Regions from separate parts of the Homo sapiens genome. Here all the other regions are reported to be linked to region 1. Evidence: microRNA targets listed by miRTarBase, many of them from high-throughput screens and not tested one by one. Region 1 holds a microRNA gene; each other region holds the end of a gene's coding sequence.
What was found. The annotated mature microRNA hsa-miR-1470 reads GCCCUCCGCCCGUGCACCCCG and lies in region 1 at 1,548-1,568, shown strand. An mRNA with a match to its seed (bases 2 to 7 or 8) in the 3' UTR can be bound and repressed. Matches are read on the target gene's strand: a 7mer-m8 pairs with bases 2 to 8, a 7mer-A1 pairs with bases 2 to 7 and ends in A, and an 8mer does both.

Region 2: the mRNA of ARSL is a reported target of hsa-miR-1470. The part of its 3' UTR that is shown has no 7-base or 8-base seed match.
Region 3: the mRNA of SEC63 is a reported target of hsa-miR-1470. Seed matches in the 3' UTR shown: 7mer-A1 at 2,004-2,010 and 7mer-A1 at 3,020-3,026.
Region 4: miRTarBase lists TBL2 as a target of hsa-miR-1470. Seed matches in the 3' UTR shown: 7mer-A1 at 3,761-3,767.
Region 5: the mRNA of GABRG2 is a reported target of hsa-miR-1470. Seed matches in the 3' UTR shown: 7mer-A1 at 2,728-2,734.
Region 6: miRTarBase lists PHF21B as a target of hsa-miR-1470. Seed matches in the 3' UTR shown: 7mer-A1 at 3,720-3,726.

The regions. Positions count from the first base shown.
Region 1 is chr19:15,448,001-15,452,088 of GRCh38, forward strand. It overlaps MIR1470 (microRNA 1470), which reads left to right and starts at 1,548; the gene lies at 1,548-1,608. It overlaps WIZ (WIZ zinc finger), which reads right to left and starts at 1,956. Exons shown (of 13, transcript NM_001371589.1): 1 at 1,798-1,956; 2 at 103-367. The coding sequence starts at 307. It overlaps RASAL3 (RAS protein activator like 3), which reads right to left. Exons shown (of 18, transcript NM_022904.3): 17 at 4,045-4,088; 18 at 3,624-3,938. The coding sequence ends at 3,795. RefSeq lists silencers at 1,221-1,330, 1,681-1,800, 1,851-1,980.
Region 2 is chrX:2,931,152-2,935,239 of GRCh38, forward strand. ARSL (arylsulfatase L) reads right to left here. Exons shown (of 11, transcript NM_000047.3): 11 at 3,370-4,039. The coding sequence ends at 3,681. Among named protein-coding and RNA genes, the nearest start is that of ARSD, 3.9 kb to the left of the region's middle.
Region 3 is chr6:107,867,944-107,872,031 of GRCh38, reverse strand. SEC63 (SEC63 protein translocation regulator) reads left to right here. Exons shown (of 21, transcript NM_007214.5): 21 at 185-4,088. The coding sequence ends at 328. Among named protein-coding and RNA genes, the nearest start is that of SCML4, 46 kb to the right of the region's middle.
Region 4 is chr7:73,566,708-73,570,795 of GRCh38, forward strand. TBL2 (transducin beta like 2) reads right to left here. Exons shown (of 7, transcript NM_012453.4): 7 at 830-4,088. The coding sequence ends at 3,800. Among named protein-coding and RNA genes, the nearest start is that of TBL2, 9.8 kb to the right of the region's middle.
Region 5 is chr5:162,152,712-162,156,799 of GRCh38, reverse strand. GABRG2 (gamma-aminobutyric acid type A receptor subunit gamma2) reads right to left here. Exons shown (of 10, transcript NM_198904.4): 10 at 1,274-3,707. The coding sequence ends at 3,432. Among named protein-coding and RNA genes, the nearest start is that of GABRG2, 87 kb to the right of the region's middle.
Region 6 is chr22:44,879,233-44,883,320 of GRCh38, forward strand. PHF21B (PHD finger protein 21B) reads right to left here. Exons shown (of 13, transcript NM_138415.5): 13 at 1,930-4,072. The coding sequence ends at 3,854. Among named protein-coding and RNA genes, the nearest start is that of ARHGAP8, 130 kb to the left of the region's middle.

The sequences.
Region 1 (4,088 bases):
GCATCCCAGCTCAGCCGCTGCTGCGCTGGGTGACTTGACTCTCTCTGAGCCTTGGGGAATGGGCTGGATGCTCCCTGGGGGCCACACGGCCCATTCTCTTACCAGAGATGCCACCTCTGCCATCCAGAATGTCTCGGGGGCCCTCCTTGGTGACAGGCAGGTAACGGGTGGACCGGAAGATGCCACCTTCCCCCTCAGCAGCTTCGGCCCCACCCTCGATGTTCTCCCTTGGCGCCGGGCCAGGCAGTCTCTCTGGGCCTTGGGGACGATCTGGTGCAGCCAGGCTGCCTGCCAGAGACCCCTCCATCGGATTTTCTCTGCTTGGATCCACTCAGCTGCTGCACCGGCTCAGCGGGGCATTGTGGGCCTGGGGATAGAGAGAAGGAAGTGCTTAGGGGATGGAGGAAAGGGAATCTGCCTCAGTTTCCCATCCCTCAAAACCTCAGTCCTCAACTTTGCAGCTCACTGCCTCAGTTTACCTCCCAGCCCAGGGGAGCTAATGGTGTTCAGACCTTTTCCACACACCTTCTATCCCAATGGCCCCTACCCTCAGCATGCCTCCGTCTCCCCATCAATAACTCCTCCCCTTTATACAGATCCTGCACTGCCTCAGTTTACCCATATTGACACATGCACACTCAGCCACCTGGTCTTCTTCCATCAATCTTACCATTTCTCCAGACGCCTCCCTTCATTCACACACAGCTGCACTTTCCCCAGTCCTGCCCTCACATCCATGCACACGCACATCCTACTGCCATGCCTTCGTTTCCTCGGCAAGAATCCCAGCCACTTGTACACTCTGATCCTATACACCGTCAGGAGTCTCCCATCATTACCCCTTTACTTTTCTCCATTGGGTTGTCCCATACCAATGATCCCTGCACTTTTCCCACACTCCAACCCTTCCCCCACACAGGACCTTAGGGTTCTCCAGCATTAACCCCTTCACCCCCCTCCACACACACAGCCTCAAGTGACCCCAGCATTAACCCTTTCGCTTCTCCCCAACATTATCCCTCATGCATACCCAGCTTGGGCTCCTCCATTCCCCCCACCCCCCAACCAAGATTGCTCTAGTCCTCGGGCGAAAGAAAACGATAGGGCTCCTGGTCCAGAAATGAGGACCCTGGGGAGCGGGGGTTGTCCTCTCTACCTATAAATACCTTCAAGGTAACGGCGGAAAGTGAAGGGCAGGAATGAGGCGCCCTCCCCAGGGAGATGGTGGGGAGGCCGGGCCCAGGCAACCGGGGCGGGGCCGGGGCGCCAGGCCTGGTTGCAGGCGCTGCCCTCGGGGGCCTGGGGATTCCCAGGGGGCTCCTCCGTGGGCTGGCAGTCTTGGTGGGGGTCCCTACCCAGGCCCGGAGGAAGCACCTGCGGTTGTCCACTGGGTGGGCACTGCCCGCGGGGAACGGGCGGGACCGCAACTTCGGAGCACTTTGGCAGCGTGGGGAGGGGGCTCCTACCCGGACGCCCCCCAGGGGTCGCAGAGGTGGGGGCTGCGCCGCGCGGGCCCACTCCTCGGGGGTCCAGGGTCCGGGGGATGAGCCCTCCGCCCGTGCACCCCGGGGCAGGAGACCCCGCGGGACGCGCCGAGGTAGGGGGGACACCTGCCCCAAGACCCCCGCCCCTCCCCCCACCTGCACGGCCCCGCCCCCGGCCAGGCCCCGCCCCTGAAGGCCCCGCCCCCGCCCCCGCCCCGGGGGGTCCCGCCTGGCCCGGCCCGGCCCGGGGCCTCCCCCGCCCCGCTACGGCTCCGCCCCACCCGCGGGCTCCCCAGGCCGGGCCGGGCCTCACCGGGGAGGCGGCGCCGCCGGCCAGGTGCCGGGGCTCGGAGCTCCCCTCCTTGGTGCGGCCGTCGCTGCCGCTACCGCCGCTGCCGCTCCCGGTGCCGGTGCCGCGGCCTCCGCAGCCGCCGCCGCCTCCACCGCTCGGGGGACATTGTCCCTTTAAATCGCTCCCCCCGCCGCCCCGCCCCCCCGGCGCGCCGCCGTGACCTCAGCGCGACAGCCCCGCCGCGCCGCCATGATGGGGAGGTCCGGGGCGCCCCCCCCACCCCACCCCCCCCCCCCTCGCCGCCCCGGGGGGGGCGGCCAGCGGGCGCGCCGCCATGTTGGGAGTGGCCAAGCGGGTCACCCTTAAAGGGCCCGCACGGCCTGAGTCCAGGGAGAGGCCCCGTTACCATGACAACACCCTTGTCGTCCCACACCCCAATGGCTCCTTATCGTCCCACTGGTACTTCCAATGGTAGGCTCGCTAAAAGCACTAAAAGAGTGGGGAGGGTGCAGAGAAGTTCCCCCATGGGTCATTGATGGGTCATTGATAGGTCATTGAAGACTCCACCCAGCCAATTTTTAGCCTTTTGTCCCCTGCCCCCCATCAGCTACCTTCCAACCACAAGCTCACTCCCTCCTTCCCAATCATCCACACTGGACTTCAGCACCTCCATGTCCCTAGAGTTGCCCTAGGTCTTCAGTCCTAAGTCACCTTCTCCACCCAGTTCCCAGGATCACAGCTTCCAGGACTACCCCATCAGACACACATCATGGCCTGTTGTCTTGTCTTATCCACCATGTATCCAGATATCTAACCACCTAGCTATCTCATCCACTTCCTCAATCTATCAATCACTCATCTACCTATCCAATGAACTAATCACCTATCCACCCACCCCTCCAACCACCTATTAATTCACCCAAACACCCACTCAACCCACCCATTCACTTCCCATCTACCCACCCATTCATCCAGCACCCAAGTAAATACTCATTTATCCATACAACCAAGCAAGTACCCAACCATCCCCACACACATCTTTCCGCCCAGCCCCCCAAACATCCATCCACCAGTTTGTCTGTTGATTTGGTCCCTCCACTAACATGTAAGTTCCATGAGGCCAGGAGTCCTGTCTAGTTCATTATTGTTTCTCCACTGCCCAGTTCTCAGGCGTCTCAGGAGACCTCAACATATGTACATATGATATATATAATCACAACATTGAAAAAAATTTTTTCTTACTATGAACCAGGCCTTTTCTAGGCAGACATACCCAACCTGGTTAACCAACTACCCAGCTACTCACCTACCAGGTCAAACATCCAGCAAATGCTAACCTATCCGTCTGCCGTTTGCTCCACCCACTCTACCCCTCACCCATCCACTCACCCATGATTTGAATGACTCATTTACCCAATCATTCATACACAGTATCCAACCATCTCCACACCTGACCCCCTTCCTTTATCCGCCTCCCAGACCCATGGCCTCCGTGACATGAGGAGGGCCTAGGAAGATGCTCTCACTGTGGGATTGGGAGGTTGCCAGGGGTGGAATCCATGCTTCATTGAGAAGCAGGTGCTGCCTATAACAATGGTGAATACCTTTTATCGAATGCCTTTAACTATGGGTCCTCTCACTGTGTAGGGAACTTTACGTCCATTTCACAGATAAGAAAACGGGCTCTTAAGAGAATGAAGGTCTAAGGTCACACAGCTGGTGAGAACTTGTGTACATGGCCCTCTCCATGAGACTTCTAATTAGGGGAGAATTTGGGAGAGATGAATAGGGCTTGCGGGGCAAATGCCTAAGAATTGGCAATTCTTAGTGGGCAAAGAAACCACCAATTTCACTGAAATCAAGATTTTACTGGGCAACTTCATACTGCCAGAGTGGTTGGGACCAGCAGCTCCACTCCCCACTGTAGGCCAAGTAGGGCTAAGGCAAAGTCAGACACCCCCCCTAAGATGGCTATCTCTCTGCTCCCAGACCACGTGTGATGAGGCAGGATGGGCAGCTCAGGTGGTGTCTCCATTGAGGCAGGGTGCTTTGAGGGGCTGGGGTTGACTCCAAGACCCCCGCGTCCTTGGAGAAAGCTGCAGGCTCTGGACAGCATCCCTCAGCTGAGCCTGAGTTCTCTCCATCTCATTTAGGCGGTGCTCCTGGGGAGGCAGTGGTGATGGGGTTCAGAAACCAGGAGAGGGCTGCACCGCAACCCTTGCTCCTCCACCGCCCAGACCTGCCCCAGGGCTCAGATGGCAATCTCACCAGGTTTTTCAGACTGTGCCCTTCATTGCTTGTTAGGTTGTGCT
Region 2 (4,088 bases), not on the chromosome of region 1:
AGTTAGGATTTTCATAAATGAGGGAGCTGCCCCACACTCCCCTGGGATGAGATGATGGGGGTGCTTGTTCAAGACAATACAGTCAGGAGCCCTACTCCCTAAATTTATTCAATTGGAATCTCCCAAAATGGTGCTGGGAATTCTATTTAGAAAAAAGACCATTCACTTTTAATTGGCAAATTTAGTTCATTTACATTTATTACGCTGGCCATCTGTCTGGAGCTAGCTCTTGAGCACTGTTTATTGCTTCTCTCTTTGCCCTGTTACTCTGAAATAGCTTTTATCAGACAGGCTTGGTGGCTCACACCTGTAATCCCAGCACTTTGGGAGACTGAGGGGGAAGGATTGCTTGAAACCAGGAGTTTGAGAACAGCCTGCGAAACACAGAGAGACCCTGTCTCTACAAAAAAATTTTTTTAAGTTAGCCGGGCATGGTGGTGTGCCTGTAGTCCCAGCTATTTGGGAGGCTGAGGTGGGAGAGTCATCTGAGTGCAGGAATTTGAGGTTGCAGTGAGCTGATTGCACCGTTGCACTCCAGACTGGGTGACAGAGCAAGACCCTGTCTCTAAAAAAATTTAAAAAAGAACTTTTTTATCTTTGAGGGCTTCCCAACTGGGATTCCTTGCTGAGCCTCTGTCATGCAGATGGAGAAGGCCAGGCCGAGGCCTGGAAGGAGGGGGGCAGGAGACAGCCCAGAAGCAGTTCTGCAAGGAGGTTTAGCAGGGGTGGCGCGGAGATTTGATCCTTGGAAGAAATCCTATGCTGCTGGGAGTTGAGATTCCTGAGAACTAGAGAGAAAAGAACTTTGGGTGCCCTTAGGTAAATTATGTAAACACACTGAGCTGTCTTGGGTGCCCAGGATTTGGAAATGGGGCCTGGGGGCAGTAGGAGCTGGTGCTCCAGAAGTCATATTTGCGGGAGGTTGTGGGGATGGAAAGGGTGGGTAAGCCCTGACCCTGAGGGTCTCACATGACTTTCAGCACATGGAGCCTCCATGGGGACTTTGGCTTCAAAGCCATCAAGCTCAAGAGTGTGGGCAAGTGTGGAGACAGAGGTGACTCTCCCCAGTGGATGCTGAAGAACTTAAAGGTGACTCTGTGGGCCGGGAACATCGGGCACAGCTGACCCAAAGTGCTGGTCTTGTTCCATAAGCCATGGCTATGGGGAAAGCCATAGGGGTTAACTGGTTCTTCCTGCCATCCCTCCCTCCCTTTCTTCCTTTTTCTTTTTGCTTCTTTGCTTTCCTTCCTTCCTGCCATTTTTTCCTTCCTTTCTTTTTAGAGATGAGGTCTCGCCCTGTCGCCCAGTGGCACGATCACAGCTCAGTGTAGCCTTGGACACTTTGGGAGGCCAAAGGCTCAAGTGATCCTCCCGCCTCAGCCTCCCAAGTAGGTGGGACTATAGGCACGTGTCACCACACCTAATTATTTAAATGTTATGCGGAGGCAGGGTCTCGCTATGTCACCCCAGCTGGTCTGAAACTCCTGGCCTCAAGCCATCTTAGTGCCCTAAAGTGCTGGGACTACAGATGTGAGTCACCGCACCTGGCCTACTATTTCTTTCTTGACCCAAGAGAATTGGCTGGAGATGGATTTGACTTTTTGGTCTGTATGCACAGCCTGAATTCTTGGAGGCTGATGTGGATTGGATAATTTGAGGACATGTTCTTGAGGCGGTGACAAGGTGGGGCATTGCTCGTCACATACCTAGGCTTGGAAGAGTGGGAGGAGGGACCTGTTGCTTGAATCTGGAGACAGAAAGAGCTATTGGAAAGACCTCCTTACTCCCAGGGGAGAATGTGCTGGGGACTGAATTGTGTTGCCTTCAAACTCACAGGAATAAGGTTTTTATTCATCCTTTAAAATGAGGTCACAAGAGTGGGCCCTATTCCAATAGGAGTGGGGTCCTTATAAGAAGAGGAGATTAGGGCCGGGTGCAGTGACTCACGCCTGTAATCTCAGCACTTTGGGAGGCCAAGGTGGGCGGATCACTTGAGGTCGGGAGTTCTAGACCAGCCTGGGCAACATGGTGAAAACCCACCTCTACTAAATAATACAAAAATTAGCCGGGCATGGTGGTGCACGCCTGTAGTCCCACCTACTCGGGAGGCTGAGACAGGGGAATCACTTGAACCTGTGGCAGAGGTTGCAGTGAGCTGAGATCACGCCATTGCACTCCAGCCTGGGCAACAGAGCAAGACCCCATCTCAAAAAAAAACAAAAAACAAAAAACAAGAATCAGAGATAGGACACAGACAGGCACAGAGGGATGACCGTGTGAAGACATGGGAAGAAGGCAGCAGCTGTGAACCGAGAAACAGGTTCTCCCCAGACACAGCTTCCGTCACGCCGTGGTCTTGGACATCCAGCCTCTAGAACTGCAAGAAAGAAATATTCTTGATGATACCCAGTTTATGGTATTTTCATTCTAGCAGCCCAGACAATTAAGGCGCAGCCTGATTATGCAATGACCTTGCAGCTCAGAGCTGGGGCGAACACTTCCTGCACAGCGCGGCTTCCACAGCCAGAGTTTGCCCAAATCACCTGGGGCATTGGAGACAAAGGAAAACCACTTGAAAACAGTTCCAACGGGAAGCACGGCTCATCCTTGTGGCCGTAAACGATAAACAAACACTATAAATGGGCACCACAGACAAAGCCACATCAGTGCCAGTTTTTATCTTTGGGGCCTATCTCCTGTTCATGTGCAAACCTGTAGGTCACAGAGACACCTTTGCTGGGACTTGTGCTGTTTTGGGCTACAGGGCAGCCTCTTCCAGACTGAGCTGGGGTCCATTGACAGACTCCTCCCCGACTGCAGGAGATACTTTGCCTCTCCAGTTTGGTGTCTGAGTGATCATTCAACGGTGCATTATTAATGTTTGTTTGTTTATTTATTTATTTTTGATGAGACAGTCTTGCTCTGTCACCCAGGCTGGGGTGCAGTGGTACGACCTCAGCTCACTGCAACCTCTGCCTCCCGGCTTCAAGCAATTCTTCTGCCTCAGCCTCCTGAGTAGCTGGCATTATAGGCGTGTGCCACCACACCTGGCTGCTGCTGCTGCTTTTTTTTTTTTTTTTTTTTTTGATAGAGACAGGGTTTCACCATGTTGGTCGGGCTGGTCTCGAACTCCTGACCTCAAGTGATCTGCCTGCCTCTGTCTCCCAAAGTGCCGGGATTACAGGCGTGAGCCACTGCGCCTGGCCAGTGTTTATTGTTCATTTCTACTTTCTCTTGCCTTTTCCTTTGTTTTTCACAGGGGGAAACTATTCATCCTTATGCAAATAGATATCTTAACATGACACTGAAGTTTGTTTCATTTTTTTGTTTTCTTTCTTTTTTGAGACAGGGTCTTGCTCTGTTGCCCAGGCTGGGGTGCAGTGGTACAATCATAGCTCAGTACAGCCTCCAACTCCGGTGCTCAAATGATCCTCCTGCCTTAGCCTCCTGAGAAGCTAGAACTACAGGCGTGTGCCACCATGCAGGCTAATTTTTTTTTTATTTTTGTTTTGTAGAGCTAGAGTTTCATCATGTTGCCCAGGTTGGTTTTGATCACGGGAGTGATCCTCCTGTGGTGGCCTCCTAAAGTGCTGGGATGACAACCACCATGGCCAGCTGGTTTGTTTCAATTTGAGTGACAAAATTTAGGAATCGGGGCTCCAGCTTTTCACTGCAGACATTTATTGTGGGTCATCTTCCCTAAGGCACCAGCAGAGGGGGAACGGGCCACAGCAGGGCTGCAGCCACGGTCTCCAGATGTTGCCCAGCCTGTCCAGCTGCAGAGGAACTGGGCTGAGTGTCCGCTGGTGTTCCCACACCGCCTGCTGGACTCGTTCCATCACCTGATAGAACACGGGCTCTGAGGCTGGTGTGAGGATGTGGGTCTCAGAAGGGTCTCTTGAGAGGTCAAAGAGCAAAGGTGGATCGTGGTGGACTACTTTTTCCCCAAAGCACGGGCAGACCTTTCTTCCATAGCAGGCACCGGCTCCCTCTGGCTGGAACACAGGCGTCACAAAGTGGACTTTCCACATTGTTCCTCCTGGTGGAAAGATAATCATTACAGAGTTGGCATAGAGAAATAGGGTGCC
Region 3 (4,088 bases), not on the chromosome of region 1:
ATTTACTTGTTTTATTTCTGGGATGAAGTGTCTGTTCTAAATGAATGAGTTGAATTTAGAATTGTGTCCATAAAAAACTATTTCTTTGTAATTGCTGTGGTCAAAGAAAACCTTTTGTTTACCAAGATTTCTTCCATTATTTCTCCCCAAATTTCTGATGTCTACATTTAATTCTTCTTTCTAGTTGGAAGTTCATGAGGCTAAGCCTGTGCCAGAAAATCACCCACAGTGGGATACAGCAATAGAGGGGGATGAAGACCAGGAGGACAGTGAGGGCTTTGAAGATAGCTTTGAGGAAGAAGAGGAGGAAGAAGAAGATGATGACTAAGCAGTACTCTGAATGGACCACAGTGTTTGCACATATTTGCAATTTTTTGCTGTTTTGGAAGTGTATCATAAACCAGAAACAGTACAGAACTGATGTTGAGGGAGGTGTAGTTTTTTTACTCTTGAAATGGGTGCATAATATAACTAGGCAGTGGCGGTGCCTTGGTACAACCTGAAAAATGTTAAGGCTTATTGAAACCTTTCAAGTAGGGGATGGTACATTTATTTCATCTGCAAATGATAATAAATCCTTTGTTATTATAACTGTCCAGAAGTGTGGGCTATGTATTATCTGATCAGTCTATGGTCCCAGTAAAAGTAAAGATGCAGGAAACACAGTCTGTAAATGAGCGACTTTTCTTTGTTCAGCTTTAGTTTTAGCAAACACCACAAATATGTTTTAAGTAACATCGCTCAAGTTTAAGTAACATCGCTCAAGTTGATAATCTCTTGATAAGCTCTGTTGTTGACATTTTGCAGTGATACAACAGCTCCACTCATAGATTTAAACTTTTATTTTTACTTATCTTGGTCATAAGTTGGCATTCTCTCACATTCCACATGATATAGAGGGCTACGTTTTGGAATTTTCCTTTTCTTAATTGCCCAGAGTTATCAGACAGATTATAAAAATGGCTTTTAATGGCTTAAACCATTTCTAAACCTCTATCTTAGCAGATCAATGCAGGATCTAATTCTTTTGATAAGTTCTAGCTCTAAAAGTGATAGTGGGACTGTATGTTTTCTGATACTGGTGGCTTATGTTATTAAACCTTTTTTAAAAAAGGTTCACTCTAAAAGCTGAACTACATCCTTAGTTTTCAGTCTACTTGACTCTATCAGGAGCTTTTTAAGGAAAGTAAGTATAACATGCAAAGGAAGCTTTTTTTGTATTCATTTTGGACTCCTGTCAATAAAAATAGAAGTTTGTTGACTCGTTTTATGTTTCAATGGTGTGTGTCTTTTTACTATCAGGACATAAATAGGGCAATCCACTTCTTTATTTTTCAACTAAAGATTGAATAGTATTGTACATTACTGCTAAAGTGACTGCTATTTCTGTATACTGTAGAAAAACCCAGGAGTGAGAGGGATTTCCCCTCATAGTACAACTGGAAGGATAGTGCTTGTAAAGAGTAGAGATGTGTACATGATGAATCATTGAGGGAGGGTGGATATTTTTATTCCTAGATATGGAGGAAACATAAGTCTGTAGTATTATAAAACTGATTGTAATAATTCTTTCCTATCAAAATCTCCATAGGTCAAAATATTGTTGGAATACTAAAATTTGCAACCTTGTTTACTTTAAAAGGTTGCCACTTTCAGTGCAGAATACTACCGGCATCTTGTTACTGCAATAGTTGGAAATAAAATGTGAAAATTAGCAAAACCATGAATGGTTTTTTTGGTTCTAAATTTAAGATGTAATATTTCCTATAAAAGGGTGAAAGCAGTTTCTTTCTCTATAACCTCAATCACCAGTTTAGTGAGAGCCTTTCTTGGCAGGCAGGAGGCAGTGTCACTGAGGATTTTTTTCATTTACTTCATTGTACAAGTAGGAGGGTGGGTTTAATTTTCAAATCAGGTTCTGCTGTGAAGCACCAGTGTCTTGAGGCAGCTACTGATTACCTAAGTGTGGTGGCAGGGGGTAAGCCAGCTGGTGTCAAGTGAAAGGAGGGATTAGAGAAAACAGGTGTGGCACGAAGGCAAGGAAACTGAGCAGACAAGACAGAACAATGTGTAGAATGCATATTTCCTAGTTTTCTTGAAAGATTTCAAGAAAAGTTGTTTTTTTTTTTCTAGTGGCTACTTTGCCTTAAAGAGGCTTTATAAGTTCATTCACACAGCTGGCTTCTCTGGTTTTAAGATTCTGGAGAGGATGATAACCTAGTAACACCACAGTGCTTAAAAAAAAAAAAAAAAAAAAAACTACCATCACCAGAAAATTCCACCAGTTTGTTTTCCTTTTCTCTTTGTGTGATGTGTATGTACTTCCCAACTAAGTAAAATAAAATTTCCTCTAGTGAGTGCTTTAGGTAACCTCTTTCCATATGGCAGTAGTGAAAGAACTGAGCCTTCAGTTGATAGTTCTTCTCTCTCCAGCAAGTCGCTAAACTCCACATCCCTTCGTTTTTCCTCTGGAATGAGAATAACAAACTATCCTAGTTTGCATTTAATCTAATGGAAACTTGAGCAAAGTTTCAATTTTCTTCCTATAAAGAAACTGACATTTTGTCAACAATTGATGAGCCTATAGATCATACAGTGTATAGGAAGTGAAATTGAAACAGTTAAATTATGTGATATTTTTCTCTAATTGGTAAAGTACCTATTAAAATACAGCTGTTCATGAGGAGACTTACCACAATTCAAAGTGTAGCAGTTGTGTATTTTAGCATTATAATATTTGATTGAGGCCCTGAGGTGTTAATATCTCAATCTCAGAGTTAGATGTTCATGTCCTTTTTGAATTTTTTAAACATTTTTCATAATTTTTTTTTTAAGTTAGGGAGCACATTGAGTGAAGTTCTCTGTGTAGAACAATACCTTCTGCTCTGCTTCTCCCAGCTTTCACTGAGGGCTGGAAAAGGACAGGCCTGTCCAGCTGTACTGTCCCACTGTGTATGGGGAAGCTCAGGCTCTGGTGGAAGCAGGGGGCGTGGATGTCAAACAACTGATGTGGAAACAGGGAGGGAGAGATATAATGAGGCTCTCTAGGCATGTTATTTTTGACCACAAGTTTTGTTCAGTTTGCTTCAGCCAATCCAAACCATATACTAGAGTGTTCTGTAGTCACAATTCTTATTTCAAATGTAATTCAGCACCTTACATAATTTTTGAGAGGTTGTCATTCATCACATATTTACTGAGTTTCTATGTGCCAGGCTCTGTGACTGGATACTGGAGCTATCAAAATGAAAAAAATAGTGTTAAGAACTCACTCGCTGGTGTTAGAGCAGGTAGATGAGTGGCAATCCATTTAAATCCATTTGCCTTGGCTATTATTTGGAATGCCTTTTTTTTTTTTTAGTCTATCTACTGTAGGCAGAAGAATTATTTCTTTAGGGGCTAGCTGTTTATTTTGCTGGCCTTTTTTTCTCTCTTTCTCTTTTTCTTCTTAAGACGGAGTCTCGCTCTGTCCTCCAGGCTGGAGGAGTGCAGTGGCACGATCTCAGCTCACTGCAACCTCCGCCTCCCAGCTTCAAGCGATTCTTCTGCCTCAGCCTCCTGAGTAGCTGGGACTGCAGGTGCATGCCACCACACCCAGCTAATTTTTTAATTTTTAGTAGAGATGGGATTTTGCCACGTTGTCCAGCCTGGTCTCGAACTCCTGGCCTCAAGTGATCAGCCCTCCTCAGCCTCCCAAAGTGCTGGCATTACAGGCATGAGCCACTGCGCCCAGCCTGTTGGGTTTTTTTGGAAAAAAAACAAAAACAACAAATCATCATCCTTTCCTTTAAAATGTTTTTTTTTTTTTAAGAAACAATTTTCCCACAAACGGTCTGATTTAACTCCATGAAATCCTCTATTTAGACTGCCTTAAAGTGAAATAACTGTTGGTGAACCATAACATTTTGCCAGCTGTGTAGTGATTAGTCCAAATATGTCTCAAGAAGTTAGCACCAAGCATTCTCATCCATTTAAACTTGATGCTAGGGCTATTTTGCAAAACTTAAAAAGATGCGATCTTGTACATATTTCTGTAACCTGAGCTGAAAACCCAAATAACAATCATTGACATACTTTAGGGCTATTGT
Region 4 (4,088 bases), not on the chromosome of region 1:
TTATAAGTGAGAACATGCAGTGTTTGGTTTTCTGTTCTTGGGTTAGTTTGCTAAGGATAATGACCTCCAGCTCCATTCATGTCCCTGCAAAGGACATGGTCTTGTTCTTTTTGTGACTGCATAGTATTCCATGGTGTATATGTACCACATTTTCTTTATCCAGTCTATCATTGATGGGCATTTGGGTTGATTCCATGTCTTTGCTATTCTGAATACTGCTGCAATGAACATTACATAAGAATTGCACATTCATTGTAGATAACACAGTAACAAAACTTTTTGTGCCTTTCCCAAGCTGTCAGTCTCTGAAATGTGACTTTACTGGAGTAGCTATAATTGTGAAAACATGTCCATATGCAAGACACTATCCAGGGCTTCAAGTTATCACAGATAAGCAAATTAAAGAGTTGGTTTTCCTCATGCGCCCGAGTGTTGGATGCAGGTGGTGGAAGACCCACTTGCAACCAAACCCCAGGAAAGTAGCCAGGAGGAGGGTGGACTGCACTGAGGAAGGAAGACTCCCTGGGAAGTGGCAGGCCACTGTTGAGATGGCACCACCATCTTAATCTGTGTATTGCATGGTTTAAACGACTGCAAGCCCCAGCCTGGGCAACACAGTAAGACCCCCATCTCTACACAAAACAGACAGGTGTGATGGCATGCGCCTGTGATCCTAGCTACTTGGGAGGCTGGGGTGAGAAGATCACTTGAGCCCAGGAAGTCGAGGCTGCAGTGAGCCATGATGGCACCACCACACTCCAGTCTGGATGAAGGAGTGAGACCCCAACTCTAAAACAAACAAAACACCAAAATAGGCTATACACCGCCATTTAAAATATTTCCCCAAATTTTTTTTTTGAAAAATTTCACACCCACAGATGTTGAAATTATAATATTAAGATACAATTACTGCCTTCACATGCAGGATTTTTGATTAAAAAAAAGAAAAACCTTGGTGGCCTCTGCTCTATGTTAATATCCAGACACCTTCTCTGTGGTTACAAGAGAAGCTTGAGTGAGGGCACTTTCTGTCCTCAGAAGTCTGTGGAATGACTTTTTGGTAGTGTTTTCTCGTCTCACTGAAACACAACATGGCAAGGTGGGTAGCACAGGATTCATTCTTATTTTGCAGCTGAGGAAACAAGCTCAGAGAGGTCAACGGACCTACTATCTGCTCTCCAGCTGGAACTGGAACTGAAGACATCTGACTTCAGTAACTCAACATTCTACTGCCACTTCCTGTCCTGGATACACAACGGGAGTAATGCCAGAGCTGCTTCTAAGAACAGGTGCGCAAAGGAAGTGTTTTAGTCTCATTCTTCTGACAATTGCCAAGGAAATACTCCTCAGGCCTTGTGTGCACAGCATTGCCAAAAGTCTGTGGTTAGGAACATACAAAACCACAATGGAGACTGGGAGTGGGAAGATGCGCGGAGAAGATACTGGGAGGTCTGTGGCTTGCCCCTGGCTTGAGTTTCACATTGAGTGCTTACACTGTCCCAGGTACTGTGCCTGGACCACAGAGCTGACAGTGGGATGGTCCAGGAGTCTGCCCGGTGGTGCTCTCATTCCAGTGGGTTCAACAGTGAGCCAGAAGCTGCCAATAAGAGAGTAGTGGACTGCATCGGGCCGACCTTAGTGTTTTGTTTGGTCCAGATAGTGTTTAGTTATTTAAGTTGCTCACTTCTAGCTTCTGTGAAGCAATTTCTGCTGGATTCCTGAATAAGTAGCAGCCACCCCCCATCCTGCAGGCAGGACACAAGCCCGCCCTCCAGCTCACTTCTGTCCCCACCTTCTACTGCCTTACACCCAGGTAACTGACCCTTCACACATTTACGGTGCCCATCTGACATTCATAGCATTTAGAGGGGGGACGAAGCCAGGTTACACAGGACCTTGCAGGCCATGGTAAGAATTTTGGATTAAGTGTTTTTAGCTAGGCACGATGGCTCACACCTGTAATCCCAGCACTTGGGGAGGCCAAGGGGGGTGGTGGATCATTTGAGGTCAGGAGTTCGAGAGCAGCCTGGCCAACATCGTGAAACCCTGTCTCTACTAAAAATACAAAAATTAGCCAGGCGTGGTGGCACATGCCTGTAATCCCAGCTACTCTGGAGGCTGAGGCAGGAGAATCGCTTGAACCTAGGAGGCGGCGGTTGCAGTGAGCCGAGATTGCGCCATTGTACTCCAGCCTGGGTGACAAGAGATTGTCAGAAAAAAAAAATTGTTTTTACTATTTTTGGTTTAGAAAAATTCTTTTGGATTTTATTCCAAGTGTGATGGGAAGCCTTGGGGGGTTTTAACTAGGGAATAATGTGATCTGGTTCACATTTTCAAAAGATCATTCTGCTATATAGAAAAGTAATGAGGCAACAGAGGAAGCAGGAAGATCCATTAGGAAGCCATATTATAGTGGCCCACTAGGTGACAGTAGCCAGGACCAGGATGGTAACAGAAAAGCTGGAGAGAAGCAACAGCCTCAGGATGTCACATGGAGTGTAACCAAAAGAACGTTCTGGTGAACAGATGACAGCTGTGGTGGTGGGACAGAAGGGATAATGAATGGGGAGTCATCAAGGATAACTCCACGGTTGTGGCTTGTTCCAACATTGAGAGGTCAGGGGCAACCAGGGGGGGTCATAGTTTTCGTGAGAGAGATCAAGAGTTTGACTTGGGATGAATAAATTTGCCTACACTCAAGCCTTCCCAGATACCTCATTTCCCTTACCTGCCACACCCACGCAGCCTTCAAATTCACAAATTTAAACTTCTCAATACCGACTCTCTTATCAAATGTACCCCTTCAACTTCAATACCCATTGCCTCTGTCCTGCTCTGGTCCTCTCTTGCCTTGACATATATAACAATAGCTATGAATAAACTAACACAAAGCACTTAATAAGGGTGTATCTCTCTCTCCCACCAGCCATCTTTGATGGCAGAAACCATGTCTTATTCGTATTTAATCCCCAGCTCATATTTATTTGGGCACAGAGTGGGCACTCAAATATCTGATGAACTTGATGAACTGAAAAGAGGTCTCCTTAAACAAGATATCATCTCCCGAAGAGAGAAGTCCCAACCATATAAAATGTATGATCAAGTCCCAGAAAACTTTGCCTTCCCAAGGAATGTGTTTCTAATTTGGTTTCAAAGCACACTGGTTCCCACTTTTACCACTTTCATGACATTGGACAATAGTACTACTCTTTTCTACTTTTCTTCCAGACCTGGGGACTTGATATTCTCTTAGCCTCATATCATCTTTGCAAGGAGTTCACAGAGAGGATTATTCTCCATCTTACAAATAGAACTGAGGCCCAGAAGGAAATCCCTTAGTGTCTTTTTGATGGAACACAGTTCTGTGATGGGAAGCTATCCCAGTCTCCCATCCTTGCAAAACTGCTGCTTAGTACTCAGGTGTTCTCTAGGTTGTTCTGGAACATTTACAAACTTCTTTGGGTGTGAGGATGTGCTGCCACAAGGCCAAAAATCACATTCTCTCTCTCTCTCCTCTCCTCTCTACCATTCTCCTCAGTGCCAGGTGGGGACAGATTCCACCCACTGGGCCTGGGAGGAAGAAAAGCACCTTGGCCACTAGTCAGGGAGGAGTCACAGCCAGCAAGAAGAGAGAGACCTAAGTAGACAAGAGTAGTTTCAATGGGAAGAAGCAGGGCCACCAGTAAGAAAACCAGGAGACTCCTTCTGAAAGGCTTCCACCTGGGAGGAAAGATGGCAGCAGTGCCATGAGGAGGCCAGATCCCTCCTCCTCAATCCTCTGCGCCGGGCCCTCCCAGAGTCACTTCTTCAGGGCACCCAGGCTCTTCAGGGTCTCTTGGGCCTGGGTCAGCTGCTGCTGCAGCCTCTGGCGGGTGCTCTCGTTGGAGGCCCGCTTCAGGTGGCCCTGCATCTCCTCCACCATGGCTCGGTGGCCAGGAGTGTTGTGAAACAGCCGCACCGCCCGGTCCCCACAGGAGGCCAGAAAGCGGCCAGTGATGTCAAAGGACAAGTTGGCGATACACTCGCCATGGACCCGCTCAAAGCACTCCTCCTTCTCGCCCCGCCGGGTATTGTAGAGATGAATACTA
Region 5 (4,088 bases), not on the chromosome of region 1:
AGAGATAGCAATTTTTGACATAATCCCTGAAGACCACATCATTTTGTTAACTTAATTTGACCTTCATTGCAGACAAAAATTTTTGCTACTAGTCAGAATAATATTGAGACTTAATGCAAGGAATGAAGGCCATATAAAGATATGAATTCAGCTAAAGTTCAGGGCATTGAGTTAGACAGCAGACAACATCTAAGTGAAAACTATATTTTTATAGGTTTGGAAGGTGAGAAATAGATGATTAAATTAGATGCAGGAAGATATGAGGGGCCAAGAGAATGGGGCCAAGGATGGTTAGGGCAGCTGTGTTGTGAAGATAATATTATATTCCTGGGAGAATTTCAAAAGAGTTCAAGAAAACATGACATTGTCTCTGGAGTAGGGCTAATCAACTTTGTATGTTTGTAAATTTTGAGGGTACAAATAACAGTTCTTTGGCCTTAAAAATAACTAATGTAATGTGTAAGTTTTTTTCCAATGAGACAGAAATTTCCCACATATAGTTTAAAAGACTTGCAATGCAAATATTTCCTAAAAATAAAAATAGAGTGATGTAGAGTCACTTAAAGGCTTATATGCCTAATGCTGGATTCTATTAGGGAAGCTAGTTTGATAGGATGAAGGGAGCATGACAGCAGTGCATGGAAGGCATCGGAAGTGAGGGAGAGAGCTTTTGACCATTTGTTGAGTGTCACTACATAGGTTAGCATTGGTATATCTAATTTATAGCTGCTAAAATGGAGACTTCTAGCTGGGCATGGTGGCATGCATCTGTAGTTCCAGCTATTCAGGAGGCTGAGGCAGGAGGAATGCTTTAGCTCAGAAGTTTGAGGCTTCAGTGAGCTATGACTGTGCCACTATACTTCAGACTGAGTGACAGAGGGACACCCCATCTCTAAACAAATAAACAAATACATAAATTATTTTTAATGGAGGATTCTAAAGTCTGAATTGACAATTGTCTAACAACTGGTAAATAGTAAAGCTGGGATCCCAACTTTGTCTGGCACTGGAATTAATGTTAACCACACCGAAATTCTTGAGGTAGAGAAGACTTGAATTTTTACTTACTTTATTACATGTCTGCCTTTCTTCTTCACTCTACAACCCACATGCCTCTCTTAATTTTTTTGAGGTGAAGAGTACCGCCATGCAAAACACAGTCACACAGCTCACAGATAAAGCTCACTGAGAGGGGATTTGGGGAAATGAGGCAGGAAAGAGAGGTCACAATCTCTAAGACAAACAGTCCCACCAGACTACTGAGATGCCACCATGGATTAGAATGCAGCATTTTTATTGTAAAAGTCCACATGTTAGGCAATTCCCTTTGTGAAAAGGTTTCCAAATACATAGACAGGGAGCAGCTTATAATAAGTATTAGATTATATATAATATATATTCATATTGCCAATACTATGCACACATTGGAAAGCTAGCTTTTTGTAGTGTCCCCATTACAGAACACATTTCAAGTTGACAATAATGTTTCTCACCATTGAAACTTGCCAACAACTCTCCCAAAGAGTCAACATTTAATATATTGACAATTCAAAACAAGAAAATAATTCGTTCTATTTACATTTGTTTGAGGTTATATACTGGAGCACTGATATATTAAAGGTTTGTAAAACTGGCAGCTAAATGTGTTTCAAGATTCATCCAGATGACTTGATGATGACTTTACATGGTTTTATACTGACAAAGCCACTCTCTCTTCTTTTCTATTCTTTTTAGGTTATCTGTAAAGTTATACTAGCTATGATTTAATTATGACAGAGTAATAATTTCCATAAAAATAATTAACAAAGGGTGCTATTTTAGAAAAATAAGGATTCAGGATGAGTACATGAAGATAGAGCTCAACTCATCATGTTTTAAGTCTGGAGAAATTGCTTTGTTTAACTACAATGTAATCTAATGAGGCCACAGTCATTGGCTCAACCTCTATGTGAGTCATTCATTTTTTTTTTTCAGTTTTTAAAAGCTAATCTTCAATACTTTTTCGCACAGAATGCTACATTCTGAACACTAGTCAGGTATGAATTTTGCTTATTCCTGTTATAAGTTCACAAACAAAATTGTGGATGGGCAAGGACTGACTCATCCCCAAACCTGGAAAAATAATACACAAACTCTAATTATGCCCTAGTAGAGTCATGTCTATACACAAACATAGGACATAAATATTGTTTTAAAAGGAGTATGGACTTTGCCTAAAATAATTTTTTGAAGATGAACATAAATAGCTAAAGTTCTTTGGATCCTACTGGTTATTTTTACAAAATCAAATATCACTTGACAACACCTATGTGAGAAGATGAGTCACTGGTTTCAGGCCAGCACAGAGATTTGCCAGAAGCATGTGAGGGCAATTCACTTCAAACCATATTTATTGAGCACCAACTATATGCCAGGCACTATGCAAGGTGCTACAGACCCAAAGAGGAAATGACAAGGATTCTGCCCACAAGGCACTCACAATCACTAGAAGCAGATCTTGAGATGGAGAATAAGTTCTGTTATGATCTATCATCCTAAAAGGAAGAAAAAAATAGCGGCAAGCACATACAATTACTTTATACTCTAGTTATGAAATTGGGCATATTTAGAGGTGGCAAATGTTGATTATCCAGTCTATATTTTACTTAAAGTGTTGTAATATGTCATACAAGGAAAAAATAAGCTGTTCGAATCTTCATGCATGAGGGAGAAGGCAATGAAAATTCCTCCCTCCATTTCCAAACCCAAATCCTTATAATTACATTCAGGAATCTTTTATAGCCCAAGGACACAAAATAAAAGACAATAGGATGATAACTTCAGTCCATTTATTTTGGATCTAAAGAGATGCATGCACTAAACTTGAAGCATTCTAAGTTATTGAAATATTTACATCATTGTACATGAATGTGGAGGAAATTTTCTTCCTATCTTGAGATAAAGGTGTAATAGATTTCTGGACTAGGCTTTCATATTTAAAGTGAGTTATGATTTTTCTTAAATGAGGGAGGTATTCTATTGGGATCAAATTTATCACAACTTGACCCGGAGTGAACATAGGGTACAGTTTTGGACCTTTTCTATCTAATTGCATTATGAATCTAGTAAGGATACCACTACTGTAAATAGTCAGGGCTTTCACTGTTTTATTTGCTGTAGCTGAAAAATATCTTATTTGGTTTGAATGTTCTTGCTCTAATTTTACTTTGCCTTGCAGGTTTGAAACACAGCAAACATCGAAGTTCAAAGTACACTAACCAAAGGAGGGCTGGGCACAAACAATATGACATTATAAAATTTACCAGGTTTGGACATAGAAACAGATTCAGATCATTATCAACCACATAGAGGATTATTTAAGTGGACTTAGAACAGACATCTCTCCATGAGACTCAGTGAATAAGAACCATATCAGTAAAACCCATACCTCCTCACAGGTAGAGGTAGGAGACCCAATAGACCAGATTAAACAGGCAGAAGGCAGTGGGGAAGAAGATCCGAGCATAGGAGTCCATTTTGGCAATGCGGATATGTATCCTCCCATGTCTCCAAGCTCCTGTTCGACAATCTTCAAAACAGCAGAAAAAACTGGCACAGTCCTTGCCGTCCAGACACTCATAGCCGTACTCTTCATCTCTCTCTTGAAGGTGTGTAGCATTATTCATTTGAATGGTTGCTGATCTTGGGCGGATATCAATGGTAGGGGCCTGGGACGAGGGTAGGGAAGGAGAGGGATCAGTTAGTTGTTCTCGAGAGATCCTAGGCTGTTTTTCCACAATGTCACCAATGTGATGATGAATCTGAAAATGGGTACTCAGGAAATTGCTATGACATCATGATCTACAATGGTAAAATTGAACTTAGAAAGATAGCACATTTGCAGATTTCAAATTTTGAGCTTAAGCAGTGCAGCTGAAAATAATATCATCAAGCTAATAGCTATAGCAAGGAGATTGAACACCAAAAGAACTCAAAGTTAAATATTTAAATCAAATTACATGGAATCTTATTCTAGTAAGTATTAGATGTGACATTGGTTACATGAAGGCATTTGATGGTGCTGCATGTGAGTGGAACAGAGAAATAAA
Region 6 (4,088 bases), not on the chromosome of region 1:
CTAGATGCTGGGGTTTGGAAAGAAAACCAACCAAACTCCCTATCTTCCTGAGTAGACAGATAAAAACCCACAGGGGTGCACACAGCAGGCTGTGGAAGCTCAAGGAACCAAAGAGCAGGCAGAAGGACAGGCAATGCCAGGGTCCTGGCGAGGGGGCTGGAAGGCGGCACTGCGAGGAGGCGGTGCTCAGGGTCAGGTCTTCAGGGAGATGGCTGGGGGCCGAGGGCACAGCACATGCAAAGGCCCTGCGGTGGGAGCAAGCGAGGAGGCAGGCAAGGAGGAGAGGAGCAGGGCATAAACCAGAGGCCAGAGCAAGCGGGGCCTGTGGCCCTGGAGGCACAAGTAAGGTGAGTAGGGTGAGGCCTTTAGCTTTTGCTGAACGAGACACAGGGCAGCAGGGTTTTGTTTGTTTTTTGAGACGGAGTTTCGCTCTTTCGCCCAGGCTGGAGTGCAGCGGTGTGATTTCAGCTCACTGCAACCTCCACCTTCCGGTTTCAAGCGATTCTCCTGCCTCAGCCTCCCAAGTAGCTGGGATTACAGGCGCCCGGATGGCAGGGTTTTGACAGCGTCGCCATCACACTAGTTGCTGGGTTGAGAAGAGACTGCAGCGGGGCAGGGTTTGGAAAGAGCAGGTGGGTGGCAGCTGCCGGAATCCAGGGGAGATCATGGGGCTGGGACCAAGGTGATTTTGGGGTGGGCGGTGAGGCTTGTCCCATCCTGCTTATGTCCTGAGGGCGGAGCTGATGGATTTGCCAAGGACCAGGTATGCAAGGTGGGAGAAAAGAGCCAAGAGTGACTCCCAGGGTGCCAGCCCCAGCAGCCTGAAGCTCCTCTGAGATGGGGAGGTGGGAGGGACTGGCCTGGTAGAGACTGTGCAGAGCGTGAGACACCCGCAGCCGTACAGTGGGCCTGGGGGTACAGACAGAAGCCAGGGGCAGGTGAAGGCCGGCTGCGGGAGATCTGAACACAGACCTGGGCCTTCAGTGATTAGGTAGAAGAGAAGCAAGTCTGGAGCAGAGACCAGGGAGCAGCCACATTGGCAGGAGTGAGGTCCCAGGAGCCTCCTTTGGCAGGGGGTGTGGCCAATGTGTCCTCTGGTTCTGAGAGGTCCAGGTGATGACCGGGAGCACCCCGGGGATCTGGCCATGGGAGGTCACTACTGACCTGGTGTTCCAGAGGTGCAAAGGGGTGGGGAGTCGGACTGAAGAGAATCCAAAGAGGACAGGAGTGAGCCACGGATGCCGAGTGTGGTCTTTTGAGTGGCCCCCAGGAGGGCTCAGGCAGAGCTGACTTGAAACCTGCTCCCCTCCTCCCAAACTATTCTCCCCAGGGCAAGCCATGAAGCGGGACTGTGTGGCAGCCCTGCATGCCCTCCACCTCTCTGTCCCCTGGGGCACCGGACCCCACTTTGGCATTAGACCCCAGCCTCTGGCCACAGCTAACTGCCCAGGGGTCGGCCCCGACCCACTTGGCCAATCAGAGTCCCCCGTGCAATGCCAGGAGCTAGGACTCAGGGGGGCTGATTCCCCACCTCTTGTAGGGCAAGGTGTAAGCTCAGCGTGGCTGCAGGAGCGCCTGTACCCGCTGCTGGGGGAGAGAGACAGCGGTGATGTTGCCAGGCTGAGAGGCAGGAACCCATGAGGGAGCAGAGGGCACCACCTTGGGCTCTGCACAGTGACAGACCTGCTGGGTTTCCAAGACTTTCCACCCTCAATCCTAGCCCTAAAGGGTCACCCGCCGCCTCTGAGGACTGGGAATCGGGGGTGAGTGAGTGGAGGGCACTGAGCTCTCTCCCTGTTTCCCTCCCTCCATCCCTCCCTCCTCAGGATGGGAGAAGACCCTGATTTCCAGCCCCTCCAACGCCCACCTGGCTGCCCTGGGCACTCCCGGGGGCCTCTCCGCAACGCAAGGACACCAAAACCACAGGGCTTTGAAATCATCGATCGAGTTTAATACATTGTAAAGAAGGAAAACTACATTGGCGTATTTAAGACAAACACTTTTTCTCTATCCTCACTACCCACTGGACGGTCCTCCTTGGTCCAAAAAAAACCTAACAATCTCAAGACACATCGGCAGCTACCCCTCCCGGGTCCAACCTTTCAGATCCTCCCATTACACTGTTAAAACATGTAACTCAATCCATCCGCGAAGAAAACCAAACCAACAGAAAAGGAAGCTGAAGACATGGACATCGCAAGCCACGCGGTAATGCATACTTGGCACAGAGTAGCCAATATAGAAGACGTGTGCCTCACACGGTTCACTTTGTTCATCAATAAAAGAATATAAAAATCTTGTTCACCCAGTGGTAAGTGTATTAAAATAGATCTGTATCATACAGCACAGTTTCTCCCGGAGTCGTGAGAATGACAGGAGGGACCGTGGCAGCTGCGGGATTTGCCGGCCTCCTCGCTCTGCACCTCTGCGTGTGTGCATGCGTGTCTGTGGTCGTGGCCGCGTGCGATGCACACACGCGTGTTCAGTGCAATTCGGCACCATGTGATATGCTCGGGGTGGGAGCCCGTGGCTCCTGGACGCTTATCCTGTTGTGCTGAGTCCCTCAGGACTGGGATGTGGGAATCGGGCAAGGGTGACAAGCTGCCACTGCCCACCCTGGATGCAGAAGCCCTTGGCAGCAAGTCTGGTCCCCGAAGGCCGGAACCTCCCGAGCCACCGCCCTTTCTTTCCTCCCCAACCCTCCACCCGGCTCGTAAAAAACCTGCCGGATCTTCCAGCTTGGCCAGGCTTCCCGAGGGGAGGTGTTCCCATTTGTACCTTGAAGCAGAGACTACTAGAAGCAGAAAGGAAGTCAGCCAGAGTCCCCCCAACCATTCACATTAAATATCTCACAATAAAAACGCCATACAAAAGTGTGAAGTTATTTTTTGGCATAGTGTCTGCACTGGCAAGAAGGGAGGAGTGGAATACTTATCGGCTCTTCCAAAGGAGACAAGAAAGGGCTTCAGTCGTTAAGTTGAATGATTCAACCCCAAGGAGAAAACCTGCCAAATGCTGCCCCCCACAACAGGGTTGCAGCTCCACTCTGCCCAGAAACTCCATGAGAAAAACGCATCAACGGCAAACTGAGTCCAAGAGATTGGCAAAAGGAAGGAGGCAGCCTTGAGGACCCCAAAGACGGAGCAGGAAGGGCACAGGCTCTGGCGGGGATCACTGCAGCGTCCCGGCGCCCAGATGCTCACCTCCGACAGTGTCTTTCAAGTTAAACAGCTGCAATTCGTAACCCTAATAATACTGACAGAAAGGGGCCCAGGTGGTTCTGCAAAGGCGACGGAGTGCCCCAGGCCCGCCCGCCCACCCCAGGGGGACCTCCTAGGAGCGTGGGGCATTGAGGAACTACCTAGATCCACTACCCCGCTTCTCGTCCCAACTACCGCTACCACTCAGCTAGTCCATGTGTTCTCAGCTCGCCCTCCCACAGGACACCAATAGGCGGTGCCCTCAGTGGAGACTGCGTTCTGGGGGGCGTGCTTGTCCCCTCCACAGCCTCAGCCTGCCCCTCCAACGGGCCAGAGGGAGGCCGTGGAGAGCAGGGCCTGGAAGCCAGAGGCCCAGGCAGCCCCGAGGTGGCCGGGGGGAGACTGTGTGCCCCAGCCTGTCGTACCCCACCTGGCTCCTAGGTACCCCCTGTGAATTTGGAGGGCACAGGGCCGCACCCCCACCTGGTCCTGGCTCTAGGCCTCTCGCCCAGCTCTTCCTCCCTCCTCTCCTCTGTCTGGTTAATTTTTGTCTGAAATTCATAGTGTTTATGAATTAAGGCCGACAGAACCCCCAGGCTGTGTAAGCAGGGTCCCAATAACTTTCCGTGGGTATGAAGACTGGTCCCTCGGGGTCAGTTGTGGCCCTGGGGGTGCTGGACGGTGGGGTGTGTGGCTGCCACTGAGGGCTTGGTCCAGGGCCCGGCCAGCAGTGGGGCAGGGCTAGTGGTCGTCATGGTGACCTGGAGCAGCTGCTCGCCCTGTATCAGTCTCAGGAGGGCCCGCAGGCGGTCCAGGGATGACTGGGTGCCCCTCTGGCGGGCCAGCAGGCTTGTCTTCAACTCCAGGCATTTCTGTTGGGGAGAAGGT